2 separate regions of the Homo sapiens genome follow, and region 2 is linked to region 1. A link means that fine-mapping ties the variant in region 1 to the expression of a gene that starts in the linked region. Tissue or cell type: whole blood. Region 1 holds a variant in brackets; the other region holds the start of a gene. All regions are shown on one strand. Distances are between the middles of the regions.

What was found. PIP is the estimated chance that this variant, and not a neighbour inherited with it, causes the effect.
Region 2: DPEP2 starts here. The variant in region 1 is fine-mapped to the expression of DPEP2 in whole blood (INTERVAL, PIP 0.97).

Annotation. Positions count from the first base shown.
Region 1 is chr16:67,640,709-67,643,463 of GRCh38, reverse strand. No RefSeq gene overlaps it. Among named protein-coding and RNA genes, the nearest start is that of CARMIL2, 3.1 kb to the left of the region's middle. The variant T/C (reference allele first, on the strand shown) is at 1,398.
Region 2 is chr16:67,998,003-68,000,630 of GRCh38, reverse strand. DPEP2 (dipeptidase 2) reads left to right here and starts at 1,147. Exons shown (of 11, transcript NM_022355.4): 1 at 1,147-1,256. RefSeq lists an enhancer at 2,208-2,628.

The DNA.
Region 1 (2,755 bases):
TGCCTGGGCTAATTATTATTATTATTATTATCATTATTATTATTATTATTTTAGACAGAGCTTCGCTCTTGTTGCCCAGGCTGGAGTGCAGTAGGGCGATCTTGGTTCACTGCAACCTCTGCCTCCTGGGTTCAAGCAATTCTTCTGCCTCAGCCTCCCAAGTAGCTGGGATTACAGGCATGTGCCACCACACCCAGGGAATTTTTATGTTTTTAGTAGAGACGGGGTTTCACCATGTTTGTCAGGCTGGTCTCCAACTCCTGACCTCAGGTGATCTGCCCACCTCGGCCTCCCAAAGTGCTGGGATTACAGGCGTGAGACACCATGCCTGGCCACGAAGAGACATAATTTGGATTAAGATCTAAGGCTCTAAGACCACACAGAACCCTCAAACTGCTTGTAGGGTGACAATTCAGTAGGTCTCACACAGTACTGCCAAGGAACCAAGAATGCAGGTTCTGGCCAGGTGTAGTGGCTCATGCCTATAATCCCAGCATTTTGGGAGGCCGAGGTGGATCGCCTGAGCTCAGGAGTTCGAGACCAACCTGGCCAACATGGTGAAACCTTGTCTCTACTAAAATACAAAAAGTTAGCCAAGCGTGGTGGTGGGCACCTGTAGTCCCAGCTACTGGGGAGGCTGAGGCATGAGCATTGCTTGAGCCCAGGAGGCAGAGGTTGCAGTGAACCAAGATCTCACCACTGTACTCCAGCCTGGGCGACAGAGCAAGACTCCGTCTCAAAAAAAAAAAAAAGCAGGTTCTGCAGGCACACTGCCTAGATTTTGACACTGAACACATTGCTTAGCCTTTCTGGTCTTCCAGTTTTGTTTGTAAGCCGGAGCTATTAACTAACCTCAAGCCTTGCTCAAAGGATTCAATGTTTATTAAGGGAAGTGCCCGCAACAGTGCCTGGCACTCAGATAACACTCACATTTGCCAAGTCTACCATGACAACCCAGGGATTCCAAAACAGAATGGCAGAAAATCCACCTCACTGGGATTTTTCTGTTTAGAATGACAAGGAGGAGAGAGAAATGAGAGTGACTGCCAAAAGGGCTGGAGCCATGCCCAGGTGGAGGGCCTCTGGAGGCTGCAGCGATGCCAGTGGGGCCAGTCCCTGTGTGTGTGAGCACATGGGGGCAGGCAGGGACAACTAAGAGATCTGGACAGGCTTGCAGGGCTAGCCACGTGGCTGATGGTGGTCAGGGAGGTAGTAACACAGCAAACCTGATCTCAGAGACCAAGTGAACACATGGGACTCGGTTCTTACAAGTGACAGTGACTCAGTGAGAAGCTGTCAGCTTGTTCAAGCCCGTCTGTGTTCTGGATGGCATGCCACTCCATGGGCATTCAGGAAATGTCAAAGCTCCCGAGAGCATCAGCCTCGCCTGCTCTGGG[T/C]AGCACAGGCTGAGGGCGAGACTTGCCTCCCAGGTGGGCCGGGCTATGCCCCCTTGGTGCTGCCATAAGGCTCACCACAGATGATTTTCAAAGACCAGGTCCTGACAAGTCAGAGAAGGGTTCAGGTACTTGCTGAGCTGGGCAGCAATAGGGTGATGCCAGCCTAGGGGTGAAAGGGGCAAAGGTTCTTTACTTCTGTGGCTTAACACTGAGGGAGCTGCATGCAGGTTCAGGAACTTCCCTGTCAACAGAAGCAGTAACACAACTGGCTTCTGCTGCTGAATGTTTTATAATTAAGGGACAGACAGGATGCATCCTGGGCTATGCAGCAGGAGGATCCCTTTTCAGCCTTAACTCCATCAGGATGTCAATTCTCTTGCCCCCTCTCCAGCTAAAACAAATCCACTTTTAAACTTTTTTTTTTTGAGACGGAGTCTCGCTGTCACCCAGGCTGGAGTGCAGTGGCGCAATCTTGGCTCACTGCAACCTCCGCCTCCCGGGTTCAAGCAATTCTCCTGCCTCAGCCTCCCAAGTAGCTGGGAGGCTACTTTTAAACTTTTAAACTTTCTAACAGAGGGCCGGGCATGGTGGTGCACGCCTGTAATCCCAGCACTTTGGGTGGCCGAGGCGGGCGGATCATGAGGTCAGGAGATTGAGACCATCCTGGCCAACATGGTGAAACTCCGTCTCTATTAAAATACAATTAGCCAGGTGTGGTGGTGCGTGCCTGTATTCCCAGCTACTGGGGAGGCTGAGGCAGGAGAATTGCTTGAAACTGGGAGGCAGAGGTTGCAGTGAGCCGAGATCACGCCACTGCACTCCAGCCTGGCAACAGACCGAGACTCCATCTCAAAACAAACAAACAAGCAAACAAACAAACAAAAACCTTTCAAACAGAATGTATACAATCAGGAATGACAGGCTGTGTTGAATGAAGATACAGAAAAACTGAGCCTCATTGTTCTGCAAAGAGGTTATATATGCTTAGGTGGCTGGGAATGGTGGTTCATGCCTATAATCCAGCACTTTTGGAGGCTGAGGCAGGAAGATCACTTCAGTCCAGGAGTTTGAGACTAGCCTGGGCAACATAGCAAGATCCTATCTCTAAAAAAAAAAAAAAAAAAAAAAACCCTAAAAAAACAAAAAAAACAAAAATGAGCCAGGTGTGATGGCATGGCCCATAGTCCCAGCTATCCAGGAGGCTGAGGTAGGAGGATTGCTTGAGCCTAGTTCAAGGTCACAGTGAGCTGATTGTGCCACCACATCCCAGCCTAGGTGACAGAGTGAGACCCTGTCTCAAAAAAAACTTGGAATTAAAAAAAAGTTGGGGCCGGGTGTGGTGGCTCATGCCTGTAATC
Region 2 (2,628 bases), 360 kb before region 1:
GGAGGATGTTTGTCTACAGTGGCCAGGCTGCTTTCTGGCTTGGAAGACTATTGTTTCTTGGGAATTGTCTGTATCAGACATCATGGGAGCAGATCCAGGGCGACATCAAAGGGAAGCATGAGTCTCCAGGACCAGAGGGGCTTGGATGCAGATGATCATCATCTGGGCACTGCTGGATACTGAGTAAGCCCCAGCTGCACCCCACCTCTGCGCTCTGAGCATGGGAGGCAGCCTGTGCAGCTATAACTCAGCCTGACTTTTTCCTTCCCTGCATACTCTTGAAATACACTGGAGATGAGTAGGGGCGAGTGAGCTGCACACCAGAATAAGTTTGGTCCTTGGAGCAAACTGTTTCTACTGCTGCCTCCTCTGCAGGTCTTGATTTATGCAAACACTGCATAGAAGAGGAAGTAGAGGGAAAAGCTGTTCACCCACCTACTCCTTCCTGGTAGCAAGATTTCCTATCCTGGCCTTGCCTCAACAGCCCTACCAATTGGAGGCTGAGGTTGTGCCAAGGCTCTATGGGGGGACGTAGCATCACTGAGGTGGCCAGATTTTGGAGGACAGGAAAGTTTGTGCTATTTGCTGAGACTGGAGAGGCTGGTGAGAGCAGACTCTCCATGAGTTGAAAGCCAAAGAAAGAAATTCGGTAGATTTCTGCAATGAGAAGCCACGGAAGAACTTCAGGCAGGAGGATGCATTGGATCTTGTTTTCGTTTTGTTAGAGATGGGGTCTCACTCTGTCGCCCAGGCTAGGGAGCAGTGGTGCCATCGTCTCTCACTGCAACCTTAAACTCCTGGGCTCAGGCGAACCTCCCACCTCAGCCTCGTAAGTACCTGGAACCACAGGCATGCACCACTTTTTTTTTTCCTTTTTCTTAGAGTTCTCATTATGTTGCCTAGACTGGTCTCAAACCTCCGGCTTCAAGAGATCCTCTCACCTCGACCTTCAAATTACTGGGATTACAGGCATGAGCCACCATGTCCTACCAGACTTTGTTAAAAGAGGAACAGGCCAGGCATCGTGGGCTCACATGAACACTCATGCCCCAGAAGTAAACAAGTGTTAGCCAACCAGGAGGCCTATCCTCCCCCTAACCTCACCCAAAGCCATCTCTGTGCCCTCCCCCTTGCAGGGGAAACAGCACACACTAGTGAAATCTTGTCTTAGTGTGTCCGGAATTGGTGGGTTCTTGGTCTCACTGAGTTCTAGAATGAAGCTGCAGACCCTCGCAGTGAGTGTTACAGCTCTTAAGGTAGCGCGTCTGGAGTTTGTTTCTTTTGATGTTTGGATGTTTGGAGTTTCTTCCTTCTGGTGGGTTTGTGGTCTTGTTGGCTCAGGAGTGAAGCTGCAGACCTTCGTGGTGAGTGTTACAGCTTTTAAGGCAGTGCGTCTGGAGTCGTTTGTTCCTCCCAGTGGGCTTGTGGTCTCGCTGGCTTCAGGAGTGAAGCTGCAGACCTTCGCGGTGAGTGTTAAAGCTCATAAAAGCAGCATGGACCCAAAGAGTGAACAGTAGCAAGATTTACTGCAAAGAGCAAAAGAACAAAGCTTCCACAGTGTGGAAGGGGACCAGAACAGGTAGCCACTGCGGGCTCAGGCAGCCTGCTTTTATTCTCTTATCTGGCCCCACCCACATCCTGCTGATTGGTAGAGCCGAGTGGTCTGTTTTGACAGGGTGCTGATTGGTGCGTTTACAATCCCTGAGCTAGACACAAAGGTTCTCCACGTCGCCACCAGATTAGCTAAATACAGAGTGTCGACACAAAGGTTCTCCAAGGCCCCACCAGAGCAGCTAGATACAGAGTGTCAGTTGGTGCATTCACAAACTCTGAGCTAGACACAGGGTGCTGATTGGTGTGTTTACAAACCTTGAGCTAGATACTGAGTGCCGACTGGTGTATTTACAATCCTGAGCTAGACGTAAAGATTGTCCACGTCCCCACCAGACTCAGGAGCACAACTGGCTTCACCCAGTGGATCCCGCACCAGGGATGCAGGTGGAGCTGCCTGCCAGTCCTGCGCCATGCGCCCGCACTCCTCAGCCCTGTGGTGGTCGATGGGACTGGGCGCTGTGGAGCAGGGGGCGGCGCTCACCGGGGAGGCTCCGGCCGCACAGGAGCCCATGGAGGGGGTGGGAGGCTCAGGCATGGAGGGCTGCAGGTCCCGAGCCCTGCCCCCCCGGGAAGGCAGCTAAGGCCCGGTGAGAAGTCGAGCGCAGCGCCTGTGAGCTGGCACTGCTGGGGGACCCAGTACATCCTCCGCAGCCACTGGCCCGGGTGCCAAGCCCCTCATTGCCCGGGGCCAGCAGGGCCCGCGGGCCGCTCCGAGTGCGGGCCCGCCAAGCCCACGCCCACCCGAAACTCCAGCTGGCCCGCAAGCGCCGCTCGCAGCCCCGGTTCCCACTCGCGCCTCTCCCTCCACACCTCCCTGCAAGCTGAGGGAGCTGGCTCTGGCCTTGGCCAGCCCAGAAAGGGGCTCCTACAGTGCAGCGGTGGGCTGAAGAGCTCTTCAAGTGCCGCCAAAGTGGGAGCCCAGGCAGAGGAGGCCCCGAGAGCGAGCGAGGGCTGTGAGGACTGGCAGCACGCTGTCACCTCTCATTAGGAGCTGCCAATATCAGTGGCACAGAC